Regions from separate parts of the Homo sapiens genome. Here region 1 is linked to region 2. A link means that fine-mapping ties the variant in region 2 to the expression of a gene that starts in the linked region. Tissue or cell type: whole blood. Region 2 holds a variant in brackets; the other region holds the start of a gene. All regions are shown on one strand. Distances are between the middles of the regions.

Region 1 (8,184 bases), 74 kb after region 2:
TGTTACAAGAATAATCAGAAGAATTAGATTCTAACTCTGTAGGCAGCAGGTATCTAGGAAACCTCGTGCTTCAATTTCATATAAATTGAATTTACACTACATCTTTAAATTTTTTGGACTTCAATATGATTATTTTATGTGAATTTCAGTTCAAACAAACTATGCTATAGCTGTTACATGGAGTTACAGTTTAGTTTTATAACATACTCGTTCTGGGCATTTATTTTTATTATTTTTTGCCACCTAATAAGAAATTTTAAAATCACTATTAAAAACTTTAATAAATACATGACATTCTTACTGTATCTACAAATTAATTTATCAAATGGCTGTGATAGGTGCCACAAAGATATAATAGATCTTATAAAATGACAAAAACTGAAAATGGCAATTTTGTATGTTAATTTTAGACTTTTTTCTTTAATCAAATCTTTGAAAAATGCAATTGACTGTTGAAATAATAAAATATTGTGGTTATATAATTTTAAAAATGCATGTAGCACAGAGGCTGAGAGGGGATAATGGTACATGTTATTTTAGTGTTTTAACATTGTCCATAGAGAAGTGTAATACCTCTTCAAGGTAGGTTGTGGTAAATTTGAGATGTACACTACAAACCTCAAAGCAAGAACTAAAGTAACAGTAACAGCTAAGAAACCAACAAAGGCCATAATAGGAAATTAAAAAAATAAATAAATAATAGAAAAGAAGACAGATAAGAGAAAATGGAACAAGTAACACATGGAGAAAACAGAAAGCTACATCAATCAGCACATTAACTGTAAATGGCTTATATACCACAACTAAAAGGTAAAGCCTATAAGAGAAATAAAAATAGTAAAATCCAGTTATATGTTGTCTCCTGGAAACCCATACTTGACATAAAGACACAATTACTACGGAAGAGATGGAATAAAGCTGTGCACTACTAACCCTAGTGATAAGACTGCTGGAATGGCTATATTAATATCAGACAAAGTAGAGCAAAAAAAATGGAAAATATCAACTGATGCTCAAGTTGTTCTGGTTAGCAGTACAAACTCTGGAACCAGACTTTCTGAGTTACAATACTGTCACTTCTATTTTTTTCTTTTAACTATAAAATAAATGTCCACATTGCTAACAAGCATATTAACTAGCTTATTATGCTTGCTTCCTTTGCTTTTGGTTGTGGTGGGTATTTATTTGTTTATTTTTTAAGACATGATCTGCCCTTGTCACCCAGGTTGGAGTGCAGTGGCGTGACCTAGACTCACTGAAGCCTCAACCTCCAGGACTCAAATGATCCTCCTGCCTTAGCCTCCCAAGTAGCTGGGACCACAGGTGCATGCCACCATGTACACTAATTTTTGTGTTTTTTGAGGAGATGGGGTTTGACCATCTTCCTGGTCTCAAACTCATGAGCTAAAGTGATCCACCTGCCTCAGCCTTCCAGTGTTGGGATTACAAGCATGAGCTACCACACTGCCAGAATCCTGTCATTTCCTTGAATTGCAAAATTAAAACCTCATAAGCTACAGTTTCCACATCTGTACAATGATAACATCATTAGAATCTTCCTGGGGAGATAGCAGTGTAGAGAAAATAATACATCGGCAGCAGGAAGAAGAGTTCGTGGTACACAGTGAAGTTTGGAAAGGTGTTCCTATTGACATCATTATAATCATGACCACCATCATCATTTCTTAGAAACACAGAATTGACAGGACTCACTGATTAAGAGTATTTGACAGTGAAATATGAGAGAAGAGATTGCCTTGGTCAATTCTTGAGTATCCATCTGGTAGAGCTTGGAAAAGTGGTGGAAGCAGAATTTTTGGGAAAAACATTTAAAATAAACTTAAACACCTTACTTTTGATCTGCGTGATGTACAGAACTGGTGATGAACAGGGCAACCTTGTCACTTTAAAATATATCTGATTGCCAATTTGCAGCATCACAAGACTAGTAAACATTTACTGTGAAACATTCAGAAAATACAAATTACCAAAAGAATAGAGTTTACCTATTGCTTAGTTTTCTCCAGCAATGGAGAGATCAATAATAATAAATCTGACACCAATTCAAAATATGAAACTTTAGGGTACTCAAGTACTAAAAGGTTTTTTTTTTTTAATGTAAACAAACTCACAGGTAACAGTGTCCAAAGTAGAACATTAGAAATGAGAGATTCTTGATGTAACAACAGGTCCAGGTGATGATAATTCAAGGCTGCTGAAACAAGTGAATGAAATCTTGAAGGGATCTTAATGATGAGAACTAATTCTTGCTTGTTGGAGTGATGAGACAAATGGTCCAAAAATTAAAAAACAAAACAAAACAACAACAACAACAAAATAATTTGTTGCTTGCAAATAGGCCCTAGAAGCAATATGAAACAGTCTTCAAATGAATAGATGAGAAAAATCGCATCTGACCTAATTAATTCAATGTCACAAAAAGAGAGACAATGTGTTATTTAAAGGGATGAGACAGAAAAAACACTCTTGTAAATAAAGAGAGAAGAGTACAATGAAGTACCCATTTCCACCTACGAGGAACGGGCATGTAAGAAAATACGGGAATCATGTGCAGATGATATAATTACTTATCTAGAGGCACCATAAAAATGTTTTTCCCCAAATAATGTCCATTAGGGATAAAATTTTAAGAAAGAAAGGATGTTACTTTTAAAGACAATTGTTAAATACCTAGTAAATAGAGTAAGTGAGTAAGAAAAGCAGAAAGAAAATAAGTTGCAGCTACCAGATACCCACAAAAAGAAAGAAAAGGGAAAAAGAAGGAATGGAGGGAGAGAGCACAAATGGAAAGAAAAAGGGTGGGAAGGAGGAGGGAGAGTAGAGAGAGAAATTACAGAAGTAGGCGAGGGGTATAAAGGAAAGCATGGAAAGACAACTGCAGAGACATCAGAGTTTCTGGGCCTCAGGATAGGGGAAAAATACATCCAACATTATAAGAAATATATCCCACTCTCTCCCCAGCAATCCATACATCGAATATGATATTAATGCAGATTGCACCTTTCTGGCTGCCCCAACCACTTCCTTCTCCTTTGGACTCACAGAAGGACCTCTATAATTTATTTCTGGAAAACACTTATGAAAATATGCACATATGAAAAGGGCCACAGAGTTTAGAAATGGGTCTTCCAGAGTCTAAAATTCAAGGTAGAAAGTGAAAGTGAAGTCACTGAACAATGGAATTTAGGCATGTGTTTGTGATTAAGTGAACTTGTTTCTTGTACTCACATAGCCAGTGCATCACTGCATCTGAATAACAAAAAATATGGTAGATTTCTGCCCCTTTGAGATTTCACTTAAATACGAAGCACTTTCTCCTTCTGATGTTTAAAAACATGCTGAAATTTGTAATATATTAGTAACAACCACTGTCCCACCCAAATGCTAAGCAGCTGCTTCTCTTCTCTGAAAATCAGAATCAAGAGAGGGAGTTTCTAGGCTCAAGACTCGGGAAAAGCCACCCCTGATATCCAGAGATTTATGTTAAGATCCCCAGCTGAGACAGGCAGAGGTCAAGGTAGGCTGAAGAAGCTGATCTGAGATGGTCGAGGGCTGCTCCTACTTACCTTGCCTATTTGCCACCCTCACAGTTTTGAAACTCGTTCAAAAAGTAAATGCTTTTGTTCACCTCTTTAACAGCACCATTTCTGGTCTCGTTTTCAACACTACGTCCTTTGCTTTGCAGGTAAAATTGCTTATTTTCTTGCCTTTTTATGACTAAAGTAGGCTTGCAGTTTGGAGTCAGGTGACTGCACTAGCTGAGTCATCTTCCCTTGAAAACACCAAGGCATTCTTCCTCCCTACAGAGTCACACATCTTAGTTCCCCAAAACGCTCAGCCACAATTTGACTTCGATTGTCCTACATTTAAGGTGATATTTTTCTGATTCTCCCATTAACTCCCTCTTCTCTTCGCACCCATGGCCCATCTTTTGCTGCTGTCTAGTAGCCATTCATCCCCTCCCATCACAAAAGAAGTCTGTACTTCCTTCAGACAGAGCAACAAGAAAATTCCCCAGAAAGCAAACAATTAAACAAATTTTAATTTTGCCTTTTTTAAATGAAAATTCTGTCAAAATTGATGAACCACATCTGGTAGGAGCACCTGTTTTATTTTCACAAAGAGTTTTCTGATCTGGACATTTTTGTTACTTACTGCTAATATGGAAAATTTTGAACTAAACAAAATACACCCCCAAAACTTAAACTATGTTAAACCAAGACAAGCTTCTAACAATGACACCTCTTTCCAGTATGAGAGAACTGCCTCCTACAGTATAAGAAATATCAAAATCATTATTTTTTTATTCCACACATATTCAACACTTAAAGCCAAGGCATTAGAATTTTAATATACCACCTCTCAAGCATGAACATATAAAAATTCTTACTGTAAATGGGGCATGATTATTTTTCAAAGAGAAGAAATATTTTATTCAATTCTAAGATTAATTCACAAATTTGACTCCTGTTTTATAATGATAACTTTACGTTGCAGGACACAGAGATTATTCCTTAAGAAATATTTTTTAAATAGATATTTGGCTCTTGGAACCAAATAATAAAATTTTCTGCTTAGACATACATACAAATTTACTTTACTTAAAACACTTTCTTGTTATTATTACATTTTTAAATCTCCCACTCTTTGGGATCTCCTTATAAGTAGGTCACTTGCTTTTAAAATCTTACATAATTAACATGTCAGATATTTACAGACATACCAAATGAAAGTATTATTTATTCTATGATATGAATAAAAAATGTTTTGAATAGATACATACATGAATAACTTTTTATTCTGAAATCTAATCAGTTTTATTCATATTTGATTTTATTTTAATTTTTTAAGGTATGTTTCACATAATACAAAATTACATTATTCAAAATTATATTATTAAAACATTTCTATCATCAAACAGGAAACCCCATTATCTACTTAACAGTTCTTTCTATTCCCCAGCCCCTGACAACCATTAACCTACCTTTTGTCTATATGGCCATGTCTTTTTACCATATATGTTTTACACTGCATCAGTTTTCAATCCAACATGCCAAGCTGAGAGAGTTTTTAAAATATTTATTTTTATTTTTTTGCACCGTCCAATTACCAGGCCCTATGCTCCTCGCACCAATCTAGTAAGACTGTGTGTGTCAAGGAGAAAATTATGTTTATTTCAGGGATTGAGGATATTAATTAATTTATTTATTTATTTATTTATTTATTTATTTATTATTTTCTTAAGACAGAGTCTTGCTCTGTTGCCCAGGCTGGAGTGCAGTGGCACAATCTCAGCTCACTGCAGCTTCCGCCTCCTGGGTTCAAACGATTCTTCTGCCTCAGCCTCCCGAGACCTGGGACTACAGGCACATGGACCACACCTGGCTAATTTTTGTATTTTTAGTAGAGACAGGGTGTCACCATGGTGGTCAGGCTGGTCTCGAACTCATGACCTCATGATCCGCCTGTCCCGGCCTCCCAAAGCGCTGGGATTGCAGGCATGAGCCACCATGCCTGGCCCTCCTTATTAATTTAAAAGATTCTGCAGGCATGAAACTTTTGCAGAATAAACTGTGTAAGTAATCATTCTATATTTTATTTTTACCAGATACATTTCTGAGACTGGAAAGTAAACAGTCTTGGCCAAATTTTTATGTTTGTTGCTAGGTGACCAAAGTCCTCTTGTGATGCCATTGCTACTCAGGTTGGAAACCACTGTGGTGATCTCAATTACTTTACCTGAGTAGACTACTGAAGCAGCATTTGAAGCTGCAGTCTTGAAACACATGCAGGCTGGAAAAGTCGCTAAAGAATTACTTATTTGAGATGGCACATGTTTCTGCAGAAACTCAAGATGTTTCTCCTAAAGATGAATCAACTGGTTCAAAAGCCTCCTCTGGGTCTCCATTGTGTGAACACATAATCCCTGGGGATTCAGACTTAAGGTCAATGACTGAATCAATGATTTTCAGGTTTTGCCACAAGGATCCTTGATAAAAAGGCCACATTATACTTTATGTCTCTGAGCCAGATAAAGATAATGATTTTCCTTCTCTGACCTTTCCCAGTAAACTTTGGAAAATAGCTGAAAGTGACCAATTCAAGTCTAATTCATAGGATAAGAATGAAACTTGCATAGTGACTAATGAAGAACTCTTCAAGAAAGAAAATTTGGAAATAAAGGCTCCTTACAGAATATTTCAAACTGACAGTATGAAAATCTTAATTTGACAGCTCAACCTTTATGGATTTAGTAAAATTCAACAGAATTTTCACAGATCTGCTTTTCTAGCCAACTTTCTGGCAGAAGAAAAAGAAATTTCTGTTTTAAGCAAGGTATTCAAAATATTTCAGTTACCACTTTGAGTATATATGTAATTTCATTTTATATATCAGTAACTATGTTAATACATGCAGTAAGATCAGATTTTAAAAATTATATCAAATATTAAGGTAAAAATTACTTAATTTTTTTGAAATTATTGAGTGCAGGTTGAGCATTAAACTTTCAGGTTTTAAGAAATGTTGCTAACAACATTCAGTCTTACCAGTGAACTCCAAATAAAGATACCAAAGCCACTTAGTGAAATGTTACTATTAAATGTATAACATGTTTTCACCAGAGGGCTTCAAAACTTGAGTGTTTTTTTTTCTCAACAAGCATGTTCTTAAAAATAGTAAACAATGTTCATTCATTATTTGATGATATTAACTTTGTGTGATAAAACAGAAATCTGAGATTGTATGGGTTATGTTTGTTATTGTTACTTGCCTCTTGGTTTAAAATGGCACTGAATTACCTTCTCCTTGGTTTTAGTTAAAGTTGTATTATCATCCGAATTTCAAACGTGGCTGTCCCCAACTTTTAATAAGAACGAAAAGAAGAATTAAGATTAAAAACACTTCTCTTGTATCTACTTCACTGAATATTTCAAGAAACACTTTAGAGCAGGGGCTAACACAGATAAACATAATTCTGTCTTAGCTGCTGAAACTAGTGAAGAAAGTTCATTTTCAACATCTACAAATTTAAATATGACTCTAACAAGGAAATCTTCTGTCAGCCAGGGCATTGCTGGTTCACCTGACCCAATTAGAAGTGGTTTCCCTCCTCTTCCATTTCAACCTCAGTTGGACAATCAGAACAAATTACAACAAATCAACATGCTATTTTAAATCAATTGACAAATATTCATATGCACTCTCATAGCACCGACATGTAAGCAAATGGCCACGTTGTGAATTTTGTTACAACCACAGCTTCTCAATACTACATCATATCTCCCTCCTTTGGGGCTGATAGTGAAACCACCTACTTTTTCCCACCAGATATCCTGAGGTATTAGCCAATGAGGCTCCTCATTCTAACCTGCTACCAGCAGGCAACCTGTGGTTGTAAATGACTGCGACAGCTGATACATCAGTTGCCTTTCGTTACAGGCCAGCTCTTCAACCATCTTTACTGGAAAAATATCACCCTAGTTACAACTGATCTTCCACCAAAAGAGTACCAGATTATGCATGACAACAGAGACTGAAATTTATGTTGACAAGAACATTAAAAATTCCTGCAATAATCTTACTGAACAATAAAATTACATGTTGACCTTTATGGTTGCTTTTCCTTTATTTCTAAAAATACAGTTAGGAGTAAAATGGGGCTTTGTTTTAGTGGCAGGCTACTGTACCGCATTTAAAAAAAAATATGTGCTTTTTTATCATTTGATGGGAAATTTGACATGGCCCTTTGTAAGCTAGTTTATTTAATTATCTAAAGAGGAAGAAATAATAGAGTGTTTTAGTCCATTTGCTGCTGCGACAACACAATACCACTGACTGGGTAATTTGTAAGGTGACTTATTTTGCTCATTATTCTGAAGGCTGGAAAGTCCAAGGGGCTGCATCTGGTGAGATCTTCTTTCTATGTTGCAACATGGCAGGAGGCCATCCTACGGTAAAGGACATGTGATAAACAGAAAATCAGGGCCAAACTCATCCTTGGTTCCAAAGCCCACTCACACAATAACTAGCCTGTTCGCCAGATAATGCTATCAATCCCGCCATGAGGGTGCACACTCACGATTTTATGGTTTCTAAGTCCACAGTCAACGTTGGCTAATTCACATACATATGTTTATATATCAAAACCATGGCAGCAGGCAA
Region 2 (8,184 bases):
TATATAAAGTCCTAGTGAATTAATTCATTCTGCAGCCAAACCCCCAGGAGTCCTGTCCTCAGGACCTCCCTGAGCCGACTTCCACCGAGGGAGGGGGAGCTTCAGGAGGCAGAGCTTCAGGATGCCTGCTGTGTTCTGGGGACATCCTTGTCATATCCGGTTTTCAGCTTCTTCTTGAAGATTGTTTCGTATCCTGGCTTCATTTCTCAGAGAAGAGCCGCGAGGAGATATAACCATCTCCTTTCACATTGGTCTCCTCCCCTCCTGGAAAACAATGAGCTCCTTGTACCTTTTTTTTTTTTTTTGGTTGGAGTGTGGTCATCTTGATTCTACAAAAGAGGTAGCTCAGGATCGGGATGAAATTTCGGTTTCTTTGAGACCGAAGCTTCTCACATTGTCGAGGTCTTCAGAAAGCCAAAGTGGAACCGCCGTGGAAATGATTGACAACCGCCCACATGACCCAGGCAGAGTCGCAGACAGAGGCCCACTAAAGACACGCTGACATGCAAGAGACCGCTTTGTAGCGCACTGGGCACAGAAACACACACGCTCACGGGCACACACGCACAGAGACAGAGAAAGCCAGAGAAACAGAGAGTGAGTGACAGAGAGAAGAGAGAATGGGAGACACAGGCACCCAGACATACAGCAGTGGCAGAGAGACACAACCCCCAGGCAATCACTGAGGCTGCGGGTTTCTGCTCTTTGGGAGAATGACCCTCGGGTGAGACAGTAGTCCTTGGGCACACAGGCAGACCTGTCCTCGAGATCACGGGGGGCACGGCTTTGGGGGAACTCACCCGAACACCGTACGGGCAGGCCTGAGGCTGGGATGCCGCACTGCTTTCCCCGGACTCCGTCTGCTGTTTCTGCATCCTGGTAGGCCCTGCGTGTAGCATGGTGTCCCGAATCTGTTTTGTCGACCCCCTGGATTGGTCAGGCTGGAGCCTCGACCCCGACGCACTGCCACGGAGGGCTCCTGCTTTGTCAAGGCTCAGGGAATCGTCCTCAGCCAACCGTTGGAGTCACCGTCACGGGAGAATGGGCTCGTGCCTCCCGCATGCGCATTGCCCAGGCCGACTCCTGCTTTGCTCTTCAAACTCCGGCTGTGGCCCCTTTAAACAGGTTCGGCGACACGTGGCGGGGGTTCTGTGGCAGTCGCAGTGGCGGCTGGAGTGGGGATGTAGTAGGGGGCGTTTATGGGACTGGGGGCTTCGGGTCCTCCAGGGCCGGACCCCCGGGAGTCCTGTTCTCAGAACCTCCTTGAGCCGACTTCTACCGGTGCAGGGGACCCCGCTTCAAGGCGCCAGCTCGGGTCTCCGGACTCACAGGCTGGCGTGCATTGTGGTGATCAGAGCTCACTGCAGCCTCAATCTCCCAGGCTGAAGCAATTTTCTTGCCTCAGCCTCCCACGTACCTGGGACTACAGGCATGTGCCCCCACACTCAACTACTTTTCTCCAAAAACATTTTTGTACGAATGGGGACTTACTACGTTGCCTGGCTCATGTCAAACACCTGGGCTCAAACTGTCCTCCTGCGCTGGCCTCCCCAAGTGCTGAGATTACAGGTGTGAGCTCGCTCCTGCAGCTAAATTCTTATATCTTAAATTCCTACCTCCCACAAGAAGCAGATGTTAGTCCCACTTATTTTATAACTTTTTGCTGTTGATGTCTCTTTTTGTCCCTGGACACAGGGATTAGTGACCCACTCTCCACCAAATTTCAAATCATTAGGGGCATTATGTTGTGTCCCACGAGTGGCTGAGGCTTCAAGCACCTGCTGCTCTAACCTAGGCCTGCTGAGGAGTACAATTCATCTTGTGTTTCTGTGTTGTTTAACAACCTTCCTGAGCTCCTCTAAGTCAATCCATCCTGCCACAACTGGCAAGAATCAAGAAACTCTCCAAGAAAATGTTTCTCAACCTGCCTGTTGTCAAGTAGAAGAGGTCTGCTGACCATGGCAGGCATGGCAGTGCATGACAGTGAGCGCCCCCCACCGTGTTTGCTATTCACTGCATGTTCCACCTGAACGTTCCCGTCTGCTCAGTGAGTCTTGACAGTGGGGTAAAGGGGACTCACTCTCAAAGACCAAGGCTGACCCTCTCTGAATACAATGCCTTGACCTAGTTACTGTCACTGTGGTTTTGTCTTCAGGGACTAAAAGATACAATAAGAATTTGTTCCTTTAATTGTCCTGTTGATGCACAAAATACTTAATGCTTCTACATAGGTCTGCTCTTGTGCCCCACAGAGCACTAAGGGAAAGTCCCCACAATAAAAGTGCTTTTCACCTGAGCTGCTACGTGTGACAGTAAAGCAGCTGAAGGTTAAAAAAATCAAAGCTCCCCAAATATGGGTATGACAGCTGGTCCAACCTCACGGTCTGTACTTTCCCTCTGTAACAGCATGGATAAATACAGAGATAACTAGCAACTGATACCCTAGTGTGCCAAGCAATCGATGTATCCGTGTGATTAAAAACCAGCATTTAACCATACTCTAGATACACTAAATATCAACCCCACACTCATAGCCTGTAATTCCACTTTGCTTCCAGATGGCAGTTACAATTGGAAAGGAAATACCTAGTTTACAGAAGGCATTAATACTTCATTGTTGCAGAAACCAAACCCTTAAAAAAATGTATCCTGGACTTTCTGACCTGGATAATAACAAACAGTGAAAAATATGTATCTAAGAATACACTTGGAACAGAAATGTGAAAAACCAAAAGTAAGAGATATTATGAAGGATCAAATATAAAATGACCCACTGCTAAAGAGGCAACAAAGAAAATTGTAGAAGAAAATGACAAGAAGCATTATGCCTTAATGAGTTTGTGCTACTATATAAGAAAATACACTAGGCTGGGTAATTTCTGAAGAAGAGAAATGTATTTCTCACAGTTCCATAGGCTGGAAGTCCAAGATCCAGGTGCCAGCAGGATTGGTGTCTGGTCAGGGCCTGACCTCTGCATCCAAGATGGTACCTTGTGCACTCTGTCCTCAGGAGGAGATGCACTGTGCCCTCACATGGCAGAAGGCAGAAGGGCAAAACAGGGGAAGCCCACTCCCTCCAGTCCTTGTGTAAGGACCCTAAACCCATTCGTGAAGATTCTCCCTTCATGACTGAATCACTACCTAAGGGCCCTACTTCCTAATCCTATAACACTGTGATTAATTTTAGGGGGACACATTCAGAACATAGCACTCTATATTCAATTTGTTAAAATTTATCTTCTTGTTTTGCTTTTCTGTTTTTCAAATGGTTTAAAGTGCACAAAATTTGATTAATCATATTCCTTGGCTCATAGCATACCTTGGCTCCTGTTTCACCCTTGTCTGTGCCTGGGCCTCTATGTAAATGTATTTGAATAATGTGGTAATCACTTGTGAACCCACAACACAACCCAAGAACTAGGGTTCTGACCTAACATCTGCTCCTCCTCTGTCCTTTTTCCTGATTTACACCCTTCAGCCCCAGGGTAACTACTACCCTGAATTTATGTTTAGGATTCCCTGCCTTTAAAAAAACATTGTTTTATTGCATATATATGATTGCCCTAAATGGCATATTATTTAGTTTTTTAAGGGTATAATTTATTTACCCATTCTCCTATTAATTTACCCATTCTCCTATCAATGAACATCTGGCTTGTTTCCATATATTTGCTATTATGAATGGCATTACATGAGCATTTTTTTTAATACTTCTGGTACATATGGGCAAGAGTTTCTCCAGGGCCTATAGTAGAGAAATTACTTTGCCGTAACATATGAGAATGCTCAACTTTATAAGATAATCCAAATTGTTTTCTAAAGTGGTTGTTCTCATTTAAACACTCACGTCCTGTATTAGTTTGAGATGATCTTGTTGATCCACAGTCTCTCCCTATTTGGTGATATGGTTTGGCTGTGTCCACACCCAAATCCCAGCTTGAATTCTATCTCCCAGAATACCCACATGTTGTGGGAGGGACCCAGGGTGAGGTAATTGAATGATGGAGGCCAGTCTTTCCTGTGCTATTCTCGTGACAGTGAATAAGTCTCATGAGATCTGATGGGTTTATCAGGGGTTTCTGCTTTGGCTTCCTCCTCATTTTCTCTTGCTGCTGCCATTTAAGAAGTGCCTTTCACCTCCTGCCATGACTCTGAGGCCTCCCCCACCATGTGGGACTGCAAATCCAGTTGCAGTTCTTTTTCTTTACATCTCTTTTTCTTCTCAGACTTGGGTATGTCTTTATCAGCAGTGTGAAAATGGACTAATACAGTAAATG[G/A]ATACCAGTGGTGTGGGGTGCTGCTGAAAAGATACCCAAAAATGTAGAAGTGACTTTGAAACTTGGTAACAGGCAGAAGTTGGAACAGTTTGGAGGGCTCAGAAAAACACTGGAAAAGGTGGGAAATTTTGGAACTTCCTAGAGACTTGTTGAATGGCTTTGACAAAAATGCTGATAGTGTTTTGAACAATAAGGTCCAGGCTGAGGTGGTCTCAGATGGAGATGAGGAACTTGTTGGGAACTGGGGCAAAGGTGGCTCTCATTATGTTTTAGCAAAGAGAATGGCAGCATTTTGCCCCTGCCCTAGAGATTTGTGGAACTTTGAACTTGAGAGAGATGATTTAGGTTATCTGCTGGAAGAAAATTCTAAGCAGTAAAGCATTCAAGAGGTGACTTGGGTGATGCTAAATGCCTTCAGTTTTGTAAAGGAAGCAGAGCATACAAGTTTGGAAAATTTGCAGCCTGACAATGTGATAGAAAAGAAAATCCCATTTTCTGAGGATAAATTCAAGCAGTCTGCAGAAATTTGCGTAAGTAACGAGAAGCTGAATGTTAATCCCCAAAACAATGGGGAAAATTTCTACAGGACATGTCACAGGTCATCACAGCAGCCCCTCCCATCACACGCCCAGAGGCCTAGGAGGAAAAAATGGCTTTCTGGGCTGGGCCCAGGTTGACTGTGCTGTGTGTAGCCTAGGGCCTTGGTTCTCTGTGTTTCAGCCCCTCCAGCCATGGCTGAAAGGGGCCAATATAGAACTCAGGCCATGGCCTTGAGAGTGCAAGCACCAAACCTTAGCAGCTTCCACGTGGTGTTGAGCCTGCACATGCATAGAAGTCAGGAATTGAGGTTTGGAAACCCCCACCTAGATTTCAGAGGATGTATGAAAATACCTGGATGTCCAAGCAGAAGTTTGCTGCAGGGGTGGGGCTCTGATGGAGAACCTCTGCTAGGGCTGTGCAGAAGGGAAATGTGGGGTTGGAGCCCCTGCACAGAGTCCCTACTGGGGCACTTCCTAGTGGAGCTGTGAGGAGAGGGCCACTCTCCTCCAGGCCCCAGAATGGTAGATTCACTGATGGCTTGCACTGTGAGCCTGGAAAAGCTGCAGTCACTCAACATCAGCCCATGAAAACAGCCAGGAGGTGGGCTATACCCTGCAAAGCCACAGAGGCAGAACTACCCAAGGTGGTGGGAGCCCACCTCTTGCATCAGCATGATCTTGATGTGAAACATGGAGTCAACGGAGATCATTTTGGAGCTTTAAAATTTGACTACCTTGCTGGATTTCAGACTTGCATGGGGCCTGTAACCCCTTTGTTTTGGCCAATTTCTCCCATTTGGAACAGCTGCATTTACTCAATTACCTGTACCCCCACTGTATCTAGGAAGTAACTAGCTTGATTTGGATTTTACAGGGTCATAGGCAGAAGAGACTTGCCTTGTCTCAGATGAGACTTTGGACAGTGGACATTTGGGTTAATGCTGAAATGAGTTAAGACTTTGGGGGACTGTTGGGAAGGCATAATAGGTTTTGAAATGTGAGGACATGAGGTTTGGAGAGGACATGAGATTTGGAGGGGCCAGGAGTGGAAAAATATGGTTTGACTATGTCCCTACCCACATCTCAACTTGAATTGTATTGCTCAGAATTCCCACTTGTTCGGGGAGGGAACCAGGGGGAGGTAGTTGAATCTTTGGGGCTGGTCTTTCCAATGCTATTCTTGTGATAGTGGATAAATCTCACAAGATCTGATGGGATTATTAGGGGTTTCGTCTTTTGCTTCTTTTGCCTCCTTCTCATATTCTCTTGCCACTGCCATGTAAGAAGTGCTGTTCACTGACAGCCATAACTCTGAGGCCTCCTCAACCATGTGAAAACCTAAATCCAATTAAGCCTCTTTTTCTTCCCTGTCTCAGGTATGTCTTTATCAGCAGTATGAATGTGGACTAATACATTTGGTATTGTCAAACTTCTTAATAATTGTGGGGAGAATAGATGTGTAGTATCTTGTGCATTTTCCTGATTACTAATGAGGTTGAGAAATTTTTTTACATTTTGCGGGCTTTCTCTTTTGTGAAATCCCTATTGATGTCTTTTCCCAATTTTCTGTTGGGTTGCTATTTTTAAAATTAATTCATAGGAGCTCCTTATACTTAGTTGATCTGGTTGTAATCTTTCATAGGTTTTAGGTACTGCAAATATCTTCTAATTTACAGTTTATCTTTTCACTTTGTTACTTTTATTTTTTAATTTCTATTTTTTTTTTTTTTGAGACAGAGTCTAGCTCTGTTATTCAGGCTGGAGTGCCGTGGCTCACTGCAACCTCCACCTCCTGGGTTCAGATGATTCTCGTGCCTCAGCTTCCCAAGTAGCTGGGATTACAAGTGTCTGCCACTAATGTCAAGCTAATTTCTTGTATTTTTAGTAGAGATGGGGTTTCACCATGTTGGCCAGCCTGGTCTCAAACTCCTGACCTCAGGTGATGTACTATTGGGATTACAGGCTTGAGACACTGTGCCCAGCCTATCTTTCCACTTTTTGATGTAAAAAGTTCTTAATTTTGTGATAGTCAAAATGTCTAATCTTTTTTAATGGTTAAATGGCTTTTTGTGTCTCATTCACTTACATTTTCTACTAAAAGTTTTAAAGTTTTGTTTCTGACATGTAAGTCTTTGGTCCTCTGGAATTTAATGTTTGTATATAGAGTGAAGCAGGAATATAATTTCATTTTGTTTCCTATATCAATAACCATTATTTTTCTATTCTATTTATTGAAATGTCCTTTCTTTCCTTGTTGATCTGCCATGTCACCTACATCACATATCAAAGATTAAATTTGTGGAGATTTGTTTGGGAATTCTCTATTCTGTTTCATTAGTCAGTTTATCAGTGAAGACCACTATTTATTTATTTATTTGTAGAGAGAGACAGGGTCTCACTTTGTTGCCCAGGCTTGAGGACTGATGCAATTGTAGCTCACTGCAGACTTGAACTCCTGGGCTCAAGAACTCCTCCTACCTCAGCCTCCCAAGTAACTGGGACTCTAAGGCATGCACCACCTCATCCAGCTAATTTAAAAAAAAATTATTATTTTTTGTAATGATGGGGATCTTGCTATGCTGCCCAGGCTGGTCTCAAACTTTTGAGCTCAAGCAATCCTCCCACCTCAAGCTCCCAAAGTGCTGGGATCACAGGAGTGAGCCACCACACCTGGCTCCATTTTCCATATTTTAAGACCATTTTTTAAAAGCTGCTCAAGACTGCTTTTTTCTCTTGGTGCTACTTGCAACTCCCTTACTTAGCTTTGGAAATACTCTTAATGAAGAAAATCTAAAGAGTTGAAAAATAAAATATTATTTCTTTTCTTCCAATTGCAAAAGAGCAGACAGCCTCCTGAATTATAAAGTTAGTTTTGATAAATTGGTGAACTGAGAGCATACACAGTATTATTAATTCTGTTCTAATTTCTGCTTCACTGTGGAGTGTCTTCACATAGTCTCAAAAGATTATTGCTATGAAATATTCTTATACATGTAACACATAACCTCTATAATTCTGCAGTTGTACTTGGCTGTCTTACCTAATACTCAGTTGCTTTGCTTCATAATATTTAAATTGGCATCTTTATTTTCCAAAATGCATAAATACTAGTATAGATTTTTAGTTAAGCCAGAAGAAAGTAGACTTTATTTACTAACATAACTTATATGTAAAGGTTTAATAAATCTCCCTGCTTCTTTAGCATCATAACAACCACTGAAAATAATATTTCTATAGCAGTTGGGGGTAAATGGGCAATGACTTTTGTGGCCAGAGGTGAATGGCCCAGGGGCTCCTGCACTTCAGGTCCCACTGAGCCTGCCACACAGCTGAGGGCATCGGTATTTCCACACACCTACAGTGCACGC

Evidence for each region. PIP is the estimated chance that this variant, and not a neighbour inherited with it, causes the effect.
Region 1: it holds the start of XKR3, and the variant in region 2 is fine-mapped to the expression of XKR3 in whole blood (INTERVAL, PIP above 0.99).

What each region holds. Positions count from the first base shown.
Region 1 is chr22:16,821,704-16,829,887 of GRCh38, forward strand. It overlaps XKR3 (XK related 3), which reads right to left and starts at 3,708. Exons shown (of 4, transcript NM_001386955.1): 1 at 3,588-3,708. It also overlaps the pseudogene HSFY1P1.
Region 2 is chr22:16,747,476-16,755,659 of GRCh38, forward strand. LINC01665 (long intergenic non-protein coding RNA 1665) reads right to left here and starts at 963. Exons shown (of 2, transcript NR_134584.1): 1 at 801-963; 2 at 1-264. RefSeq lists a silencer at 3,830-4,030. The variant G/A (reference allele first, on the strand shown) is at 4,278.